Linked DNA regions of Homo sapiens. The protein of the gene in region 1 interacts with the protein of each later gene in a biochemical or structural test. Each region holds a gene or a part of one and is shown in the gene's direction. Other genes may lie near its edges.

The links. The genes of interacting proteins can lie anywhere in the genome.
Region 2: the proteins of LCAT (region 1) and A2M form a complex in vitro, tested with the Homo sapiens proteins (one study listed by BioGRID).
Region 3: the proteins of LCAT (region 1) and APOA1 form a complex in vitro, tested with the Homo sapiens proteins (6 studies listed by BioGRID and IntAct, with this or other methods).

Annotation. Positions count from the first base shown.
Region 1 is NC_000016.10:67,941,113-67,948,379, reverse strand, and holds the start of LCAT (phosphatidylcholine-sterol acyltransferase precursor), read left to right. Parts: upstream 1-4,259; 5' UTR 4,260-4,278; coding exon 4,279-4,432; exon of another isoform or gene 4,433-4,906; intron 4,907-5,167; coding exon 5,168-5,324; intron 5,325-5,403; coding exon 5,404-5,519; intron 5,520-5,613; coding exon 5,614-5,709; intron 5,710-5,792; coding exon 5,793-6,017; intron 6,018-7,267. Other genes in the region: SLC12A4 (solute carrier family 12 member 4), read left to right, coding at 221-319, 592-711, 945-1,049, 1,275-1,443, 1,747-1,942, 2,040-2,209, 2,298-2,429, 2,509-2,616 and 3 more. UniProt on the Homo sapiens protein: Central enzyme in the extracellular metabolism of plasma lipoproteins.
Region 2 is NC_000012.12:9,112,908-9,120,810, reverse strand, and holds the start of A2M (alpha-2-macroglobulin isoform a precursor), read left to right. Parts: upstream 1-4,891; 5' UTR 4,892-4,961; coding exon 4,962-5,047; intron 5,048-7,267; coding exon 7,268-7,451; intron 7,452-7,903. UniProt on the Homo sapiens protein: Is able to inhibit all four classes of proteinases by a unique 'trapping' mechanism. This protein has a peptide stretch, called the 'bait region' which contains specific cleavage sites for different proteinases.
Region 3 is NC_000011.10:116,835,239-116,842,464, reverse strand, and holds APOA1 (apolipoprotein A-I isoform 1 preproprotein), read left to right. Parts: upstream 1-4,842; 5' UTR 4,843-4,860; exon of another isoform or gene 4,861-4,946; intron 4,947-5,057; 5' UTR 5,058-5,077; coding exon 5,078-5,120; intron 5,121-5,307; coding exon 5,308-5,464; intron 5,465-6,053; coding exon 6,054-6,657; 3' UTR 6,658-6,714; downstream 6,715-7,226. UniProt on the Homo sapiens protein: Participates in the reverse transport of cholesterol from tissues to the liver for excretion by promoting cholesterol efflux from tissues and by acting as a cofactor for the lecithin cholesterol acyltransferase (LCAT).

The DNA of each region.
Region 1 (7,267 bases):
CAAACCCTTGCCCATCCTCTGCGATCTGGCTCCGAGGACTCCTCCACAGTAGTCTCATTGCCTCAGGCCATGGAGGTGGCAGCAATGAGGTTGAGAAGACCTTGCTGAGCCATGCAGGGCAGGGCCGGGCCACGCCCCGTTTCTGGGCCAGGCCCAGCCTGACATCAGGTCCCCAGCTGCCGAGGAGGCTGCTCTTCGCCAACCGCCCTCTGTGCCGCAGGTTCTTTCTGATGTGCTACCTGTTCGTGAACCTCGCCTGTGCGGTGCAGACACTCCTGAGGACCCCCAACTGGCGGCCCCGGTTCAAGTACTATCACTGGTGAGCCATGCCTCTGACACGGGAGACCCTGGGGAGGCCAGGAGCCTCATTCTGGGTGAGGCTTGGGTTTCCTGGGTAGGGAGCTCTTGAAACACTGTGGGGAGGGAGATTATAGGGCTGCGGGGGACTGGACCTAGGTCTTACACCCAGTGACCTGACCACCCACCTGGGACCTCCCACCCGGGACCTGACAGGGCTACCAGGGCATGGGCCAGGCTGTGGCCAGGGGTCCTCCTGGTCCTGCCCTGACTCTGCCCTCCCCTCTCGTCCAGGGCGCTGTCCTTCCTGGGCATGAGTCTCTGCCTGGCCCTTATGTTTGTCTCCTCCTGGTACTATGCCCTGGTGGCCATGCTCATCGCCGGCATGATCTACAAATACATCGAGTACCAAGGGTGAGTGAGCACTGCCACCTGGCCTCTGCCAGCTGAGGGGGCCCGGCCGAGCAGGCAGGGTGGTCTGGCATTGGGGTGGGCAGGGAGCTGGGCCACCGTGGGTGCCAGGACTGGGGACTGTAACTCAGGACCCCTGGGTGGTCTTGAGGGGCAGAACCCCTCCACCTCGCATCCACATAGACAGAACCCCCTGGGCGGCACCAGGGGCTCACCAGCTGTGGTGGAATCTGCAGGGCTGAGAAGGAGTGGGGTGACGGGATCCGAGGCCTGTCCCTGAGCGCTGCCCGCTACGCGCTGTTGCGGCTGGAGGAGGGGCCTCCTCACACCAAGAACTGGCGGTGAGTTCCCGCCAGACCCTGGCCAGGGCGCAGAGGTTCTTAGGGGTCGCTGTCGGGGTCAGAGGGTCGAGAGGTGCCGGCTCCCCATCCTGGGGCTGCCCGGGGCACCCTCCTGGGCCATGCTACCCAAACCTGCAGGGACCACGACCCGAGAAGGGAAGAAGAGGAGGGGCTCCCTAGAACGGCCGGCCCTGGTCTCAGGCTCCCCCCACCCGGCCACTGCAGGCCGCAGCTGCTGGTGCTGCTGAAGCTGGACGAGGACCTCCACGTGAAGTACCCGCGGCTCCTCACCTTCGCCTCCCAGCTCAAGGCTGGCAAGGGCCTGACCATTGTTGGTTCTGTCATCCAGGGGAGCTTCTTGGAGAGCTATGGCGAGGCTCAGGCCGCCGAGCAGGTACTTGCTTTGGGGAGGGAGAGCTGAGCCAGACTACAGGGGTCTGGACTGCAGCTGGCACGGAGGGGAGGGCCCAGTCTTGGCCAGGGTGGCCAGCCAGGCAGCCAGCACTGCTGCCACCTGAGAGCTGGCACAAGGGGGAGCCAGCAGTCCCATCTTGAAAACTTGGCCTCTGGGTAGGCAGCTTGTTGCCCCCAGGCCCTCCTCCACCCAAAAGTCGTTTTGTTCCCGAGGGGCCTTGGGAGGGAGCCCAGAGGCAGGAAGCTGATGGCCTCCCATTGGCCCTGGGTGTGTTCCCCACAGACCATCAAGAACATGATGGAAATTGAGAAGGTGAAGGGCTTCTGCCAGGTGGTGGTGGCCAGCAAGGTGCGGGAGGGGCTGGCCCACCTCATCCAGTCCTGTGGCCTGGGAGGCATGCGGCATAACTCCGTGGTGCTGGGCTGGCCCTACGGCTGGCGACAGAGCGAGGACCCCCGTGCCTGGAAGACCTTCATTGGTGTGTGAAGGCCTGGGGCCTGGTGGGCAGGGGTGAAGTGAGGTGGCAGTGGGCGGAGGGCCACAGACTGGTGGTCAGCCGTGCTCCTCCTCCCCAGACACCGTGCGCTGCACTACGGCTGCCCACCTGGCCCTGCTCGTGCCCAAGAACATCGCCTTCTACCCCAGCAACCACGAGCGCTACCTGGAGGGCCACATAGACGTGTGGTGGATCGTGCACGATGGTGGCATGCTCATGCTTCTGCCCTTCCTGCTGCGCCAGCATAAGGTAGACCAGGGGGTGGGTGCAGATGAGAGGGGCTAGGCCCTTGGAGGAGCAGCTGTGACCAAACCGCCCACCTGGTCCCTTGCCTCAGGTCTGGAGGAAGTGCCGGATGCGCATCTTCACAGTGGCCCAGATGGATGACAACAGCATCCAGATGAAGAAGGACCTGGCTGTCTTTCTGTACCATCTGCGCCTTGAGGCCGAGGTGGAGGTGGTGGAGATGGTGAGCCCTCTGCCCTGCCCTGGCCCCGTGGATACCATGTCCCGTGCAGCTGGGTCCTCACGGCCAACCCTGTCCCCAGCATAACAGTGACATCTCTGCATACACCTACGAGCGGACGCTGATGATGGAGCAGCGGTCGCAGATGCTGCGGCAGATGAGACTGACCAAGACTGAGCGGGAGCGAGAAGTCAGTGCCCTTTGTGGTTCACGCCAGGGCGGGTGGCAGGGTCAGGCCTTTGGAGACCGCATCGGTGGGTGCGGAGGAATCAGAATGACTCACCGCAGCCCTACCCAAGCTAGTGCTCATTTCCCGGAGGCAAGGTGGTCACATTGGGCCAGACAGGCCCCATCCCCCTTTTCCTATGGGACCAAGGCTATCTCCTGCAATTGTCCTCAGGCCCAGCTGGTCAAGGATCGGCACTCGGCCCTGCGGCTGGAGAGCCTGTACTCGGACGAGGAAGATGAGTCTGCAGTGGGGGCTGACAAGATCCAGATGACGTGGACCAGGGACAAGTACATGACTGAGACCTGGGACCCCAGCCATGCCCCTGACAATTTCCGGGAGCTGGTGCACATTAAGCCGTGAGTGCAGCAAAAACAGCCCCAGCGGCACTGGAATCTAGGGGTGGAGGTGGGGTGGGGCAGACAAGTAGTGTTAGATGGGCCAGGGGTGGGGACCCTCCTTGCAGGATGGCTCATGGCGACCTGTGACTGGCTACACTACGTGTAGGGACCAATCCAATGTGCGGCGCATGCACACTGCTGTGAAGCTCAATGAAGTCATTGTCACGCGCTCCCACGACGCCCGCCTGGTTCTCCTAAACATGCCTGGCCCACCCAGGAACAGTGAGGGCGACGAGAACTGTATCCCTTTGTGGAGAGGCAGGCAGTTGGGAGGTGGATAGCATGGGAGGTCAAGCCAGCGGCTTCTCTCCTGGGCACCCCTGGGTGGGCATGGCCCAGGTGGCCCGGGTTGCCCGTTGATTCTGTTGTTGCCTCCTTGACTTGAGGCCCTGCAGACATGGAGTTCCTCGAGGTGCTGACCGAGGGCCTTGAGCGGGTGCTGTTGGTGCGCGGTGGTGGCCGTGAAGTCATCACCATCTACTCCTGAGCCCAGTGTCATCTTGTGGCCTGGAGTCGAGGTCTTGGCCAGGACATAACAAGCTGTGGTCTGGGGTAACAGCCTCTTCCCAGCACCCACCTGCCAGCCCTGCTTGCCTGGCCCTGTCCTGGACCCAGCTTTGCTAGGTCTCCTTGGAAACCAGGCCTGGGCCTCAAAATGGAGATGGATCCCAGGTCTTGTGGGACCCTGGGATGTTTGGGGACTTTACTATCTAGCACCCCAGTAGGCCTGTCCTGGCCAGAGAAGACTGGTAGGGGCCGAGTGGGGTTTGAAGGCAGCCGGCCCGGCCCAGCCCAGGAGCGCTATTTATTGCATATTTATTGTTTGGATGTCACCATCAGAGACGAAGGGAAGGGTAGCCAGGGAGGGAGTCCAGCCCAGCTGCCTGCAGGAAGATCTGGCTCAGTCTACTATGGGCAGGGCCCCCCACCAAGCTGAGCCGAATGGAGACAGCTGAGCTGAGGCCTGACTTTTTCAATAAAACATTGTGTAGTTCTGGGCCTCCTGCTGCCCCGGCTCTGTTTCCCCTGGCGCCAAGAGAAGAAGGCGGAACTGAACCCAGGCCCAGAGCCGGCTCCCTGAGGCTGTGCCCCTTTCCGGCAATCTCTGGCCACAACCCCCACTGGCCAGGCCGTCCCTCCCACTGGCCCTAGGGCCCCTCCCACTCCCACACCAGATAAGGACAGCCCAGTGCCGCTTTCTCTGGCAGTAGGCACCAGGGCTGGAATGGGGCCGCCCGGCTCCCCATGGCAGTGGGTGACGCTGCTGCTGGGGCTGCTGCTCCCTCCTGCCGCCCCCTTCTGGCTCCTCAATGTGCTCTTCCCCCCGCACACCACGCCCAAGGCTGAGCTCAGTAACCACACACGGCCCGTCATCCTCGGTAAGCCCCCACCAGGCCCCTGATGCACCACGCCAGACCCTGGGGAGCCTGGGCCCCAGCCCCTGGCAGCTGACCTGGCCAAAGCCCTTCTGCCCTGCATAAGCCCCGACATAAGTACCTGCCCTGGTGTGGGGAGGGGCCAAAAGCTTGTCCCTTAGAGGAATGACGTCCCTTCTCCCACCACACTGTGACTCTCAGTTGTCTAACCCAGGGGGGGCGGAGTGGGGGACGGGGTGTGCCTGAGGTCTTGGCTGGGGCATCACAAGCTGTGGTCAGTCACAGCCACACCAGACTCTGGGCCAAGCCCCACCACTCCTTCCTTGGCCCCCACCCACCAAGGACAAGATGCCCAGCCCAGGATCGGTGAGCAGGAGAGGCCCATCCATGCCCGGCCCCTATTAGGCCCAGCCCCCATGCCCCCAGACCTATCTGTTCCCACCTTGGACTTTGGCAATAAAGGAGCGCCAGACTGGGTGTTTGCTCTGCAGAGGCAGGGGTCAGCGGCCTTGGCCTCAGCACCTCAGCGCCTTCCCTTCCTCAGGGAAGCCTGGGCTTTGGCTACTGGGGGGACAGCAGGGAGAGGGGGTGTAAGCAGGGGAGGGTAAGTGTGCTTTGTACCTGGGGGTTGAGGGTATGGGAGGTGGGGGGTGGGTCTGGTCACTGCAGCATCTGGGGTGACGGGGGTAAGGGTCACGGGGGGAATCCAGAGTCCAGAGTGAGGGCTGCTGCTCACAGTGCCCGGCTGCCTGGGGAATCAGCTAGAAGCCAAGCTGGACAAACCAGATGTGGTGAACTGGATGTGCTACCGCAAGACAGAGGACTTCTTCACCATCTGGCTGGATCTCAACATGTTCCTACCCCTTGGGGTAGACTGCTGGATCGATAACACCAGGTACAGCCATGTGCTCCACCCTAGCCCCAACACGCTGCCCCTTGGCTACTGGCTGCTGAGTGGCACCCCCGCCCCGCAGGGTTGTCTACAACCGGAGCTCTGGGCTCGTGTCCAACGCCCCTGGTGTCCAGATCCGCGTCCCTGGCTTTGGCAAGACCTACTCTGTGGAGTACCTGGACAGCAGCAAGCTGGCAGGTTTGTGTCAGAGGGCAGGGCTGGGGCTCCAGGCCTGGGTGCTGGCCCACAGCAGGCATGGCCCAAGCCCCCGGTGCTGCTGGTCCCCCCACAGGGTACCTGCACACACTGGTGCAGAACCTGGTCAACAATGGCTACGTGCGGGACGAGACTGTGCGCGCCGCCCCCTATGACTGGCGGCTGGAGCCCGGTGAGTGTCTCTGCGGATGACCGGCTTGGGGTGGGGCAGGTGCCCCAGACCCCAGCTGCCCTGACCCCTTCCACCCGCTGCAGGCCAGCAGGAGGAGTACTACCGCAAGCTCGCAGGGCTGGTGGAGGAGATGCACGCTGCCTATGGGAAGCCTGTCTTCCTCATTGGCCACAGCCTCGGCTGTCTACACTTGCTCTATTTCCTGCTGCGCCAGCCCCAGGCCTGGAAGGACCGCTTTATTGATGGCTTCATCTCTCTTGGGGCTCCCTGGGGTGGCTCCATCAAGCCCATGCTGGTCTTGGCCTCAGGTGAGAAGGCCTCGAACACTTAGGTCCAGCGATGGGTGAGACCAAGCTGATCCTGGGCCTGCCTTCATTGCGGCTCCTGCTCACAGTGGCCTCTAGGGGTGCTATCTACCACTCCTGGGCTGGCATGCTTGCTGTCACTGGCCCCCAGAGCAGTGACCCTGGCCTGAGCAATTAGGGTGGCTCCTTCCAGAGTCTGTGTCAGTGATGGCAAAGGGGCAGTGAACACAGAAAGTGAATCCCAGCTATCTGCTCCCAGGGTTTGTTCTTGTAGCCCCAGAGCCTGCCTGCCCAGCCCTTGCCTGCCTTCCACTTGCTCGCAGGAGTGCCTTTGCCCAGGGATGTGCTTCACTGAGGATGGATCTGCCAGAGCTAGGGCCAGACCCCCCGAGGCCCCACCTGCTCTTCCCTAGGGAGTGGCACCAGGGCCCAGCACTGACACAGCTACCACCTACTCCCCACCCCCTGTACCCTGGGAGCTGGTCTGGAGAGAGAAACACAGTCTGGACAAGAGAAACGCTCATCAGACACCACCAATAAACATCAAACAGACACCATCTTGTTTCCCCCTTTCTGGAGCACAACTCTGTGGCCCCCATTGCTGCATAAGCCACACAAGGAGCAGAAAGACACATGCCCGAGGGAGGACAGCCAGCACCGCCCCCACCATCCCCACACATCCTGGGCCTCACCCACCATCCCCACACACCCTGGTCCTCAGGAAGCCCCGCCTACTTTTTTTTTTCTTTTTCAGACAGGGTCATTCTGTCGCCCAGGCTGGAGTGCAGTGGCGTGATCATAGCCGCAGTCTCAATCTCCCTGGCCCAAGCAATCCTCCTGCCTCAGCCTCCTGGTTAGCTGAGACTATAGGCACACAACACCACACCTAATTTATTTTTGTTTTTTAGTAGAGATGAGGTCTTGCTATGTTGCCCAGGCTGGTCTCAAACTCTTCACCTTAAGTGATCTTCCTGCCTCAGCCTCCCGAAGTGCTGGGATTACAGGCGTGAGCTACTGTGCTGGGCCTTTTAAAAAATGTTTATTTGTTTATTTATGTATTTTGAGATGGAGTCTCGCTCTGTTTCCCAGGCTGGAGTGCAGTAGTGCAATCTCCACTCACTGCAACCTCCATCTCCCCAGTTCAAGTGATTCTTCTGCCTCAGCCTCCCTAGTAGCTAGGATCACAGGCATGTGCCACCACGCCTGGCTAATTTTTATATTTTTAGTAGAGATTAGGTTTCCCCATGTTGGCC
Region 2 (7,903 bases), on another chromosome or scaffold:
CACTGAGTACATCTCTGTAGATATATATTTCCTTCACTGCAGATTTTGCCCAAGATACTTCGTCAAAGACAAAGCCAGTACACCCTCTAATAGGGTGAATATGGTTATGCCACCTACTGAGCTTGTTTTTGATACTAGTTAATATGTAACCAGATGAAATTGTCATTATCGTCACTGTCAGGACTATGGGAAGCTTAAGTGTTCTCTTTTCAAGGACAATGTGCGCTAACTGTACAATTGGTACAATTAAATAAGTTATATTCAGTTCCTGGGAAGCACTATAGCAATACAAGGAGAAAATTTGATTCTATTTATTTTTGTTAAGGCCCACCTACCTCCTAATCCTAATTTCTCTCATTTCCCAAATATTCCTTGTTTGTTCTTACTGTTATGTGTTTTCCTGTATTTTGCTCTTCTACTTTCTTTTCCATGGACTATCTTTTTCCCTTCCTTTTTTTCGCTCTACCCCTTTACCTCAGCTTTCTAGCAGTATTTGCTAAATACTTCAAAACTGTATAGAACTGGTTCAAATTGTGTGCTCCCTTTTCTGTCAAGAACTTGCTACTCAGGTAACCCAATTGGTGATTTTTCCTGGAAACACTGATGGATGCTGTTCCTATAGCGAAACCCAGAACAGAGATGAAATAGATGTCATCCTCAGCCATTAGCATTCAAACTATAAAAATTAATTTACACTGGTATAGTAAGGATCAGAATGTCAAAGCTGTGTTACACCTAGCATCTTGTATGAAACTACCCCATTAAGGTGAGACCACAGATATTATTGCCCCACTATTGGCATGAAAGCTGAGGCTCAGAGCAGTTAACTGAGTTACCCAGGACCACACAGCTAAGTTAGAAGTAGGGCTCAGGTGTCCTGGCAACTAACTGGTCCAGTTATTTTTTCTCTCAAGCTCGTTTTCCCTCTCCTAAAGAATAGGAGGCTCTGTCGTGGTGAAAGGCGATTTTAGTAATACTTTCCTTTTTATCTGTGATTATAATGAATGCGGCATCTCTCCCATTAAGGATCATTCCTCCACCCACATTCTTAATACATCTGCTGCATGCATCCTTCAGAGACCTCCCTCTGGGATCATCCCTTCTCACTCCAAAAAGCTCAACTTCTCCCCTGTCATTTGTACCTCCCACTCAGCATTTTTAGAAGCAATATTTCATTCAAACTTATTCAAGTTTATTTCCACCTAAAGAAATATTCCTTTCACCCTGGCATCTCCGTCAGGTACTGCTCTGTTGTTTTTCTCCCCTTCAGACAAACTGCCAAACTGGCTCTAGTTCCTCACATTCCCCATCACCCTCAGCAAGCTTCTGCCCCACACCGGCACTGAAACAGCTGAATCCCAATGTCCTTGTCCTTAAACCCAGCAGAAAAAAAAAATCAATCAATTATTTGATTTCACAGCGGCACTTGACATGGGTAGCCAGGAATTTATCAATGACAACCTTTACAGATCATCTTTGTAATTTATCATGAGGCATCAAATGAATGCTATTAACATTAATCCCTCCTATTTTAAGTCATTAATCCAAGTAAATGCTCACTTATTTCTAGCGTCTTAGAAACCATTTAAATTATGTTACATTATGAATCAATACATTATAAAATTATACCATCATTTGTAATAATTTTTTAAAATGTTGTGTGCTATTAACATTGATGCCTTGGTATAAAGTCATGATCATTCTGGTCTAGTAGCAATCTTCTATTGACTATTCTCTTACTAAAGCGGTCCCTTCCGTGGGACTCAGAGACCTCACACTCTCCTGCCTGTGTTTCTTCCTCTCTAATTGGCCCTTCTTGCTCCACTTGGGTGCTCCTGCCCATTGCCTAGACAAGAGCATTCCCTGTAACTCTGTCTTGGGCTCTTTTTCTCTTTTCATCAACATCTTCTACGTGGGTATTATCATCCATTTCCATGGCATCAGCTTGCCCAATAAACTGATAAATCCATAGTCTCTATAAGTACAGCAGATCTCATCAAGCTAGTGGCATTCAGACTGCTTTAACTTTAACCAAAAATAAGGGATTTTGTACATGTTCAATAAGCAGTTCCCACTGTGACACTGTAATCACATTTTCACAATTGTGACCTAGGACACTTAGAGTAAAGGATACAGATGATTGAGACAGAAATAGTGACAAAGAAAAATAAGGTTAGGATATAGATTTTAATGCTGTAACAGACCTCAAAATACAATGGCTTAACTAAGAGAATGCATTTCTCTGTCACATAAAGGTCCCAACTGGCGTAGACTTTTGATGACTCAAGGGCTCAGGCTGTGCCTGGTTTGTGGTTCTGCCTTCCTTAACACATGGCTTCCATCTGATGAGCTACAGCAGTACCTATCACTAGTCAGCATGTCCACATTCCAGCCTGGGCAAGGAAGAAAGGGGAAGCGCAGAACTGTACCCTTCCTTTTTTAAGTCATGAACTGAAAGTTGCATGTATCACTTCCACTTGCCCTCCAGTCACCAGAACTTAGTCATATGCCATACCCAGCTTCAAGGGAGTGGGTTAAAAACATAGAAGTCAACTAGGCAGTCTGCACCCAGCAAAGGATCGGGAGTTCTATTATTAAAGCAGAATTGGAGAAGTGGTAACAGGAAACAACCACCAGCCTCTGCTGCATGTATATGAAACAGATGTTTCCCAAATCACTATTCTCACTTATTCTGTCTGATACACTGTATTTTTTATTATATTCTCTTTCATTTTTTAAAATCCTGGTCATGACTCACAGGGCATGATGTTACAACCCACTTAGATGCTAACACCATAATCTGAAAAATATTACCTATATTATGTCTAATATTGGCCACTTGAAGTATGGCTAGCCTAAATTGATCTATGTTGTAAGTATAAAATTCACACCAGCTTGTGAAAACAAATTATGAAAAAAAAGTCTTTAAGATATCATTAACAATTTTATATTGGCTAAATGTTGAAATGATCATATTTTGGATATATTGGATTAAATAAAATACACTATTAAAATTAATTTAATGTTTCTCTTTATGTGGTTACTAGAAAATTTAAAATTTAAAATTACACAGGGCGATCACATTCTATTTCTAGTAGACCACACTGCTGTAAGCTCAAGATTCAAATGTCAAACTCCTGTGAATATTAATACGTGAATATCCCACAAGCACTTACTCCATCTTCCCAACCCTCAGCCCTTCTGTCCTCCTTCTGCTCCCACCAATCTGTGTTTCTTCTGTTTCACTCACCCAGCTAAAGGCAACACAATTCACTCCGTGACGAGCCAGGAAAATGGAAAGACACATTTTCCTTTATTCCTCACATTGATATATTCACTGAGCACTATAATTACCTCTTAAATATGATATAAATCTGCAAGCTCTTTTCAATACCACCACAAATTCCATAGTTCAAAATGCCATCAGCTTTCACCTATATTATTACACCAGCTCCCATCTGGTCTTCCTGCATCCTGGATCACCTCTTTCTAGCTGCCCTTTCAAATTTCAATAAGAGCAAGCTTTCCAGGAAACAAACCTGAAGTCAATCCACTGAGTACTCCTCTGAATACCTTAATATTGTTGACAAATTCCTTTCTGATTTGAAGTATCAGAAAGGAATATTTCCTCCATACCAAATAGTTTTCATTTCATGCATGTGCCGTGATTCTTCTCCCTCCTTTGCATCTGTCATTCGTTATGCTTAGAAAGCTCTTTTCATCTCTTTGTTCTTCGAGACAACCACTACTCATACTTCAGAGCTTAATTTACATTTTGCTTTCCCTCAAAATTTTTTTAAAAGGTTCCAGGTCTGGGTTATGTGCTCTCTTATGTGCTCCCAGAGCATCCTGAACTTCTGCAATAATATGTTTGGCTACTGTATTTTATACAGTAGTTTTATATTGTATTTTATACTGTATTTTATACAGTAGGTGTTATATTGTATTTTATACAGTAGTTGTTTTTCTGTCTGTTTTTGCCCCAACAAGAATGTAAAATCTTTAAGTGCCTGTTTTCATACTTATTTGACCACCCTATCTCTAGAATCTTGCATGATGTCTAGCCCTAGTAGGATCAAAAAATACTTACAAAGCAACTGAATAGCTACATGAATAGATGGATGAATAAATGCATGGGTGGATGGATGGATTAATGAAATCATTTATATGACTTAAAGTTTGCAGAGGAGTATCATATTTGGAAGGCAGTAAGGAAGTCTGTGTAGTCGATGGTAAAGGCAATTGGGAAGTTTGTTAGGCACAATAGGTCAAAATTTGTTTTTGAAGTCCTGTTACTTCACGTTTCTTTGTTTCACTTTCTTAAAACAGGAAACTCTTTTCTATGATCATTCTTCCAGGGCCTGGCTCTTCATCTGCAACCCAGTAATATCCCTAATGTCAAAAAGCTACTGGTTTAATTCGTGCCATTTTCAAAGAGGACTACTGAATTCTGATGTGGCTTCAAACATTTAGGTTAGGCATATCTAATGGAGAACTTGCAGCCACACTGACTTGTAGTGAAATATCTATTTTGAGCCTGCCCAGTGTTGCTTAAATTGTAGTTTTCCTTGCCAGCTATTCATACAAGAGATGTGAGAAGCACCATAAAAGGCGTTGTGAGGAGTTGTGGGGGAGTGAGGGAGAGAAGAGGTTGAAAAGCTTATTAGCTGCTGTACGGTAAAAGTGAGCTCTTACGGGAATGGGAATGTAGTTTTAGCCCTCCAGGGATTCTATTTAGCCCGCCAGGAATTAACCTTGACTATAAATAGGCCATCAATGACCTTTCCAGAGAATGTTCAGAGACCTCAACTTTGTTTAGAGATCTTGTGTGGGTGGAACTTCCTGTTTGCACACAGAGCAGCATAAAGCCCAGTTGCTTTGGGAAGTGTTTGGGACCAGATGGATTGTAGGGAGTAGGGTACAATACAGTCTGTTCTCCTCCAGCTCCTTCTTTCTGCAACATGGGGAAGAACAAACTCCTTCATCCAAGTCTGGTTCTTCTCCTCTTGGTCCTCCTGCCCACAGACGCCTCAGTCTCTGGAAAACCGTGAGTTCCACACAGAGAGCGTGAAGCATGAACCTAGAGTCCTTCATTTATTGCAGATTTTTCTTTATATCATTCCTTTTTCTTTCCTATGATACTGTCATCTTCTTATCTCTAAGATTCCTTCCAGATTTTACAAATCTAGTTTACTCATTACTTGCTTACTTTTAATCATTCTTCCCCAACTCTCTGAAGCTCTAATATGCAAAGCCTTCCTAAGGGGTGTCAGAAATTTTTAGCTTTTTAAAAGAATAAATTTTAGATATTCACATTCATATTGATCTACTTGAGACCATGCTATTTATCTTTTCTTATTTCCTCTTTCTCAAGGGTCCATTTTCTATTTTATAAAAATAAAGACAATTCTCTCCCACAACCAAACATGGAACAATGCCCTGGAGTATAAAAATCTATAGAGTGCCAAATAAAGGAACAATTTGAAATACTGGTGTTGATATTGAAAAAGCAAGGGACTCTAATGTCAGAAGAGAAATCCTTTTGCAGATGAGGTGGTGATGAATTCTTTGTTTCAACACAACTGAAGGAGGAACTGAAGGAAATACCAGCTGATGAGTGATGAGAAGGGATTCTTGATAATAGAGTACTAGGTGATTTTTGGCATGTAATGCAGAAGTTGCAAGAAGTGGTAACAATGATGCAATTGTTTTACCTGCCATTTATTTACTTTTATGTGAGCCATTCTTCTTAGCACTTATAGCTACACAAAACAAAAATAGTAACAGAATTAATGTTGTTTAATTCTTGCAATCCATGGATGCATAAATTCACTGGGGGAAAAAACAGCTCATCATTCTCATTAAAGATGTGCTTCAAAAGTATTTTAATTTTATATCTAATATGTATGAATCATACTTTGTATTTATTTTGTTTTGATCAGTTATATACAAGTATTTTTGAACATAGCTCAGTCAGAAGGAAATGTTTAATATTTATAAATTTATGGTTACATTCTATTTAAAAGAGGAGTTAAAGTTAAATTTACCTACCCACATATGTTACATATATATGTATTTATGTATATGTATTCATATATGTATATATGTGAACATAAGTATACATACGTATATGTATAGATGCTTGACAATAAAGAAGTAAGAATAATTCACAACATTTTTTGAAATATAAAAATTTAGGATAAATTTCTGTATGGTAATTGGCATGGAAATTCAAATTCAAAAAGGAAAAAAGAAGAGAAAGATATTAAATATCAGACCATTAAAAGAATTTTTTAATGTACTTTTAAATAGTGATAGTAGGTATCTTATACTACAGTGTTTATTATTCATGAGAAAATTGTAAAAGTAATCTAAGTATTAATTTAAAATATCATCAAAAATAATATCTTTTGCTATTACTTAAAATCATGATAAAAATATGTTTACTTGAAAATATGTAAGGAGTGCACAGAGTCCAAAAATTATTTTAGGAGTTCTGTGAGCAAAAATGTATAAAAACTACAGGGTTGATCTTAAATTACATGTCAGGGTACTGAGAAAGTTTCTGTACTGCACATGAGTTACCAAGGTCTAAAGTCAATCACCAGAGGACCATTTTTGGATGGAGCCATTGTCTAATCATGAGCTGAAAGGCAAATATTTAAAATGCAAACATCCATGGTTAGGTAACACTCTTAAGACCTTATTAGCTGCTTACCACAACTGAGACTGTGAAGTAATGGCTCACTTTCTTTGAGGCTCAGATTCCATATCTGTGGAGTGGAAGCGAGTGCTTACCATACAATTTTCACAGGGCTGCTGAATGTGTGTATGTATGTATGTGTGTATATATATTTTAATGAAAATTCTATAATTTGATTAGTTTTTGTAATGTCCGCATGACTGAGAGCTTGCTTACTTTTTACAGCAACTTGAAGGTAAAAATAGATTTTACAACATGAACAAATGTAACTACATATTTTTATTTGAATTCAGATGTTCACAAATTGTTCCTTAAAGTGAAGCATGCCTACAAGTTTTAATCTGTTTAAGACCTACCTCAAGTAAAATGTTCACTGCCATGGCATGTGAGGGAAAAGGGAAATAATTCTTATGCATGGCCTTCAACGGCCAAATTTCATGCTCATCAGTACATCTTCTCTTGGTGTAGAACTGATGATGATAATTATGATGATGGAAAAAAGTGCTGTTGATAGCAATGCCTCTCTTCCTTCACTTTCCTCTAACTGAACCGTCTCATTCCCAGGCAGTATATGGTTCTGGTCCCCTCCCTGCTCCACACTGAGACCACTGAGAAGGGCTGTGTCCTTCTGAGCTACCTGAATGAGACAGTGACTGTAAGTGCTTCCTTGGAGTCTGTCAGGGGAAACAGGAGCCTCTTCACTGACCTGGAGGCGGAGAATGACGTACTCCACTGTGTCGCCTTCGCTGTGAGTGTGGCTGTTTGACTTAATATACTTGGTTCTTTTAGTCAGGGTCATAGGGATCTAGTATTCTGTCAGATGAGGCTTTGGGAGGTTGGTAAGAACTGCAGGAAGGAATCCAAATGTAGCAAACTAAGTATAGAAATTAAGGAGCAATGCATGACTCTCCAGCCATGGGAGACAAATATTTACAGGCAAACTAAAAGTCAGCTTAATAATCACATAGAAACCCTATTAGCCAGAAAGGAAAAAAAAAAAAAGAAAATGTGACTTCTTAAAATTAAGATGGAAAAAATATTAATAAAGCAAACTAGACCAAGGCTCAACATGAGCCACCCGTGGTGGACTGACAGGAACACATCACTCCACACTACTTCTAAGAGTAAAAATTGTAGAAATTACCCTGAGCAAAGGTGTAATATCTCTTCAGAGTTGTCCACATGTGAGATGCTTACAGC
Region 3 (7,226 bases), on another chromosome or scaffold:
CCATCTGAGTTCACAGAAGGAAGAATGAGAGGAGGGAATTTAGAAAGCCTTCCAAGCTGGGCATGGTGGCGTGCGCCTGTAATCCCAGCTGCTCAGGAGGCTGAGGCAGGAGAATTAGGTAAACCCAGGAGTTGGAGTCCAACCTGGGCAACATAGCAAGACCCCCACCTCTACAAAAAATAACCAGGCTTGGTGGCACATGCCTGTAGTCCCAGCTGCTCAGGAGGCTGAGGCTGAAGGATCATGTGAGCCTAGGAGTTTGAGGCTGCAGTGAGCTGTGATCGCACCACTGCACTCCTGCAAAGAGAAAAGAAAGATTTCAAGTCCATGAGGGCGGCTAGAAAGTTGCTGTAGGGCCATTTAGATTAGAGAAGAAAAGAGCCTTCTCAAGAAGGGCCTTCTGGCCGGGCGCGGTGGCTCACGCCTGTAATCCCAGCACTTTGGGAGGCCGAGGCGGGTGGATCACGAGGTCAGGAGATCGAGACCATCCCGGCTAAAACGGTGAAACCCCGTCTCTACTAAAAATACAAAAAATTAGCCGGGCGTAGTGGCGGGCGCCTGTAGTCCCAGCTACTTGGGAGGCTGAGGCAGGAGAATGGCGTGAACCCGGGAGGCGGAGCTTGCAGTGAGCCGAGATCCCGCCACTGCACTCCAGCCTGGGCGACAGAGCGAGACTCCGTCTCAAAAAAAAAAAAAAAAAAAAGAAGGGCCTTCTAAAACTCCTCTGAGTCTGTATACGCTGTCATGCAAGACTAGGTGAGTCTCTAGAATCAAACAGTGATAATACCCAGATGCCTTCCAGCAAATTGTAGCACCTGTTGCAATAGGTGCCACTCCCTCCTAAAATCAGCCAGGGTGCCTTTGGACCAGAGGTAGGGTGAGCTTTTGTAGGAAGCAGGGCACTGGCTCCTGGATACAGACTGGAGAGCTTAGCTCCAGAAAACAGGAGCCATGTTGACAGAAAACCGTGCTCTACACAGTTTTCTTTCTGACTTTGTGCCAGCCCCCACCCCACCCCAACTGCAAAGATCAAGAACTCAGAGGGCTACTGTGCTTCCCTCCTGCTGATCAAAGATGAGCTCTGTCCTGGCCTTAGTCTTTTCCAAGCAGGAGGGCAGGAGAGAATCTTGCATAGCTGGCTACGGTGCCCCACCCAAGGGTCTAACTTGGGGCTCTATCACAAAAGCTGCAGCAAAATTGCCAAAAGTAGGAACTACTGGGGGTGGGGGTCCTGTCTCCCCTGCTCAGTCACCACCTCCCCTCCCTAACTCTCATTCTGGCTCATACCACGTGCTCCCAGAAGAAACGTTCTGAGCAGGGGCTGGTATGAGACTGCCTCCCCTCCCAGGACCCACTCCTCCCTATGACCAGGCTGGTGACCCTCCCTCTAGGGTGCCAGTGCCATTCACTGAGCAGATGTTTGGCAGGTGTCTGTTATGTGCCAGACCTAGCAGGGGACAGAGTCCTCCCGATACAGATGGACCAGTATGTTTGGACATAAATTGTGAAAGGAGTTGCTAATCTTTCTGTGCAAAATCCACTCTTGCGGTCACCGCCAACACTCCTACACATGTCAGGGCATCCAGGGCCAGGACTTGGTAACCCTGTTCAGGAGCAGTCGCTCTGGAGACTCCCAAGACGAGGGAAAGAAATGGGTGGAAACAGGGGCCTACACTGTGGGCCCCGCAGCCACCAAACAGTCCAACCCGTGGCCACTGAGTGCCTTGAACAATGCCTGGCTGGACCCTGAGTCTGAGTGTGTCATCAACCCAGTTTGTTATTGTCGTTGTTGTTGTTATGTATTTTTCCATCAGCTCTGTCCAGAAAGACCTCCTTCCTTTCCAAAATATTAGTAAAGGGGGCTTAGACTAGTTTAAGCCAAATACCTTGCAATAAAATGGAGTAGCCACCCTGGTGAATAAGTATATTTAGAAAAGGAAACTGCCTGCTTGGTAAGATGCTGTTCAACAGCACCCCCTATCCTGATGCCTCGCAGTCCCTGAGCCAGGAAACTGAGAAGTCCCTGATCAGACTGCAAAGGCTGCAGGCTCCGCAAGGGTGCAAGGCCACCCTCAAAGAACTAGAAGCCAGGCCTCCCGATTCCCACCCCTGCCAGCGCTAAATAGTAACCGCTGAAGGATGCAGGGCAGCTGTGAGCTGCAGTTTTCCCACAGGCAAAAATCACAAGGGTAAAATCTGGCCTCCAGCCTTATAGGGATATTCTAAGTTGTGAAAGTGCTTTGGCCACAAAGAACTGCGCAAATGTTAAATACTAGGTTTAGCCATAACAATCATTTTAGTAACAAACCAAAGAGAAGGGTGAAACACTGGCAAGTATCTTGGAGTCCAACCAGTAAGCTTCTGAGATTCCCCCATGTGCTGACTGGGACAAACTCTACCCCCCAAAAGAAAAGACGCTCTCTTGGCCCGAGACACCTGTGAGCTGTCCCAGCAGGGGACCAGCCACCTTCCCACTTTCTAAAGCTACAGACAGCTGGGATGGTCAAGTAGGCAGCCCAGGCTGATGGCTCACCAAGGCCACCTCCCTGTCTACACAGTCCCATAGACATCTGGGGCCACTTCAGTCCTAGAAAAGATGTTCCATATCTCAGCAACTGCAAGTCAAGGACAAGCAGAGAGATGTGGGACTGCTGCCTTCATGCCTGCTGCAGAAGCTGAGGTCTCAGATCTGATAAAGCAAGTGTAGTGGGAATAAGGGAATACATTACCAGAAACTGGGATTCTAGAAAACAGAATAGTTACTGTTTACTAAGTGCTAGGTACCTTTCTAACAGTTTTGCATATATGTTCAAAGTTCATGCTTAAAACGATACAAATTTATTATCTTACAGTTATGGAGGACAGAAGTCCAAAATGGGTCATACTGGGCTAAAATCATGGTGGCAGCAGAGCTGTGCTCCTGGAGGCTGCAGGGAAAAATCCTTTGCCTTCTCCAGCTTCTAGGGAAGGGTTGCTCATGTCCCTCAGCTCATGGCCCCCTTCCAGCAGTCACGAGTCTGATCTCCACTGCCATCCTCACATCTCTTTCTCTGACTCTGAGGCCACTGCCTCCCTCTTGTATAATTAAGGACCCCTGTGATGACAATGGGCCCACCTGGAGAATCCAGGCCAACCACCCCATCTCCAGGTCCTTAATCACACTAGCAAAATCTTTTTTTGCCATGGAAGGTAGCAAAGCCACAGGTTCCAGGGATGAGGCTGTGGACATCTTTGGGGAGCGTTATTCTGCTTGCCACACAGTAACCCCTGCCATAACTCAGGGCGATGGCATATTCTATCATTATCTTCAATCAGAAACTGATGTGTGGGGAGGTGATGTATCATAACTCATCCAGGGTCAGGCAGCTGGATTTGAACCTGCCTGACCCTTAGATTTGAGGTTTTCTGGCTCCAGAATCTTCTCTGAAGTGAAAGGCATGAGGCCGACCACTCCCTGATCTGGTAAACAGAGATGTCAGCCTGGTTTCTAGTGTTAGGGAGTTTCCTGGAGTGATGGTACAGGGTACATTTCTGCCCTGCATCCCAAGTCCAGAGACTGGGTTCTAGGTCCAGCCTTTCTTCTAACTCCCTGAGAGATGACAGCCTCTGGGCAAAGTCCCTCTGTGCTCTTCAGTCTCTTCATCTGTGAGATGGTGGCATGGGGAGAGGCTGGAGTGATGTCACAGTTCCTCTCAGCCTGCATCACAGGCTCTAGGACTCAGGTCCTATCAGTAACCTGCTGGGGGAGGTCTGGGCCTTCCAGGAGAAACCTGACAAGATGGTGCTGCAAACACCAACGGACACACAGCACTTTACATTCACAGGCTGTCTCAGGGGCCTCCAACAACCCTGACCATTCTTGCCCCATTTTGCAGATAGAAAACCGAGGCTCAGAGAGATTATATAACTTGCCCACGATCTTCCTCCAGCAAGATGGAGGCCAAGTGAAATGAGAAAGCAGGTCTCCTGCCACTTCCTTTGCCCAGAGGTCTTCTCCCCACACCAGGGCTTCCCAAGGGCTGAGATCCAGTCACACCTGTGCGTGATCAAATATAAGTGTGAACAATGCAAAGGGAGACGTCTTCAATCTAAGGGGCTTCAATTCTGTAATGTAATTCTGAGATTATGCCCTTTTTTGTTAAAGCCTTTCCTTTTTGAAGTGATGGTCACTGTAGATGGTGAGGGTTTTTTGGAGGCGGACAATATCTTTACATGACAAAATTAAAAGTTGGCAGCTCCGAATTGATCTCTGGAGTGTTTTGAAATGCAAGAGGTCTCCGAAACCTCAGTCTGGGAGCCACGGAGGGCTCTCCCCTCTCCCCAGGTTTACCAGTTTGGGAGGCTTGGAGAGAGGCCTGGAGGACCTGCTGGGGACTAAAGAAGAGCACTGGTGGGAGGACAGGGCGGGGGAAGGGGGAGGGGAGTGAAGTAGTCTCCCTGGAATGCTGGTGGTGGGGGAGGCAGTCTCCTTGGTGGAGGAGTCCCAGCGTCCCTCCCCTCCCCTCCTCTGCCAACACAATGGACAATGGCAACTGCCCACACACTCCCATGGAGGGGAAGGGGATGAGTGCAGGGAACCCCGACCCCACCCGGGAGACCTGCAAGCCTGCAGACACTCCCCTCCCGCCCCCACTGAACCCTTGACCCCTGCCCTGCAGCCCCCGCAGCTTGCTGTTTGCCCACTCTATTTGCCCAGCCCCAGGGACAGAGCTGATCCTTGAACTCTTAAGTTCCACATTGCCAGGACCAGTGAGCAGCAACAGGGCCGGGGCTGGGCTTATCAGCCTCCCAGCCCAGACCCTGGCTGCAGACATAAATAGGCCCTGCAAGAGCTGGCTGCTTAGAGACTGCGAGAAGGAGGTGCGTCCTGCTGCCTGCCCCGGTCACTCTGGCTCCCCAGCTCAAGGTTCAGGCCTTGCCCCAGGCCGGGCCTCTGGGTACCTGAGGTCTTCTCCCGCTCTGTGCCCTTCTCCTCACCTGGCTGCAATGAGTGGGGGAGCACGGGGCTTCTGCATGCTGAAGGCACCCCACTCAGCCAGGCCCTTCTTCTCCTCCAGGTCCCCCACGGCCCTTCAGGATGAAAGCTGCGGTGCTGACCTTGGCCGTGCTCTTCCTGACGGGTAGGTGTCCCCTAACCTAGGGAGCCAACCATCGGGGGGCTTTCTCCCTAAATCCCCGTGGCCCACCCTCCTGGGCAGAGGCAGCAGGTTTCTCACTGGCCCCCTCTCCCCCACCTCCAAGCTTGGCCTTTCGGCTCAGATCTCAGCCCACAGCTGGCCTGATCTGGGTCTCCCCTCCCACCCTCAGGGAGCCAGGCTCGGCATTTCTGGCAGCAAGATGAACCCCCCCAGAGCCCCTGGGATCGAGTGAAGGACCTGGCCACTGTGTACGTGGATGTGCTCAAAGACAGCGGCAGAGACTATGTGTCCCAGTTTGAAGGCTCCGCCTTGGGAAAACAGCTAAAGTAAGGACCCAGCCTGGGGTTGAGGGCAGGGGTAGGGGGCAGAGGCCTGTGGGATGATGTTGAAGCCAGACTGGCCGAGTCCTCACCTAATATCTGATGAGCTGGGCCCCACAGATGGTCTGGATGGAGAAACTGGAATGGGATCTCCAGGCAGGGTCACAGCCCATGTCCCCTGCAAAGGACAGACCAGGGCTGCCCGATGCGTGATCACAGAGCCACATTGTGCCTGCAAGTGTAGCAAGCCCCTTTCCCTTCTTCACCACCTCCTCTGCTCCTGCCCAGCAAGACTGTGGGCTGTCTTCGGAGAGGAGAATGCGCTGGAGGCATAGAAGCGAGGTCCTTCAAGGGCCCACTTTGGAGACCAACGTAACTGGGCACTAGTCCCAGCTCTGTCTCCTTTTTAGCTCCTCTCTGTGCCTCGGTCCAGCTGCACAACGGGGCATGGCCTGGCGGGGCAGGGGTGTTGGTTGAGAGTGTACTGGAAATGCTAGGCCACTGCACCTCCGCGGACAGGTGTCACCCAGGGCTCACCCCTGATAGGCTGGGGCGCTGGGAGGCCAGCCCTCAACCCTTCTGTCTCACCCTCCAGCCTAAAGCTCCTTGACAACTGGGACAGCGTGACCTCCACCTTCAGCAAGCTGCGCGAACAGCTCGGCCCTGTGACCCAGGAGTTCTGGGATAACCTGGAAAAGGAGACAGAGGGCCTGAGGCAGGAGATGAGCAAGGATCTGGAGGAGGTGAAGGCCAAGGTGCAGCCCTACCTGGACGACTTCCAGAAGAAGTGGCAGGAGGAGATGGAGCTCTACCGCCAGAAGGTGGAGCCGCTGCGCGCAGAGCTCCAAGAGGGCGCGCGCCAGAAGCTGCACGAGCTGCAAGAGAAGCTGAGCCCACTGGGCGAGGAGATGCGCGACCGCGCGCGCGCCCATGTGGACGCGCTGCGCACGCATCTGGCCCCCTACAGCGACGAGCTGCGCCAGCGCTTGGCCGCGCGCCTTGAGGCTCTCAAGGAGAACGGCGGCGCCAGACTGGCCGAGTACCACGCCAAGGCCACCGAGCATCTGAGCACGCTCAGCGAGAAGGCCAAGCCCGCGCTCGAGGACCTCCGCCAAGGCCTGCTGCCCGTGCTGGAGAGCTTCAAGGTCAGCTTCCTGAGCGCTCTCGAGGAGTACACTAAGAAGCTCAACACCCAGTGAGGCGCCCGCCGCCGCCCCCCTTCCCGGTGCTCAGAATAAACGTTTCCAAAGTGGGAAGCAGCTTCTTTCTTTTGGGAGAATAGAGGGGGGTGCGGGGACATCCGGGGGAGCCCGGGTGGGGCCTTTGGCCCTGGAGCAGGGACTTCCTGCCGGATCTCAACAACTCCGTGCCCAGACTGGACGTCTTAGGGCCAAGATCGACGTTGGAGGACCTGCTGGACGCCTGGCTGCTTACGAGTGAGGGAGTAGAGTCTGCCTTAGCAAGGCTCAAGTAGAAAGGAAGTCACAGCGGACCAGGCAAAGCCACAGACAATCCAAGGCCAGGTGCCCTGAAAGGGGCTCAAACAAGGCCTGCAGCCCTGTCTGAGGCGGGCCAGGAAACAGGGTTGCTTTAGCTGGGAGCAGTGGGTTCCCCGTCCCCAGAGGTGTGTCCGTATAGAGCCTTCTCCAGCCCAGCCGCTGTCAGCGGGGCGGGACGGAGCGGGGCGGCCTCAGGGAGCCAGCCACTGGGATTGGGGTTTGGTCCCGGGTGCAAGTGAAGCGCTTGGAGTTTGCGCCTGTCCTCCTTT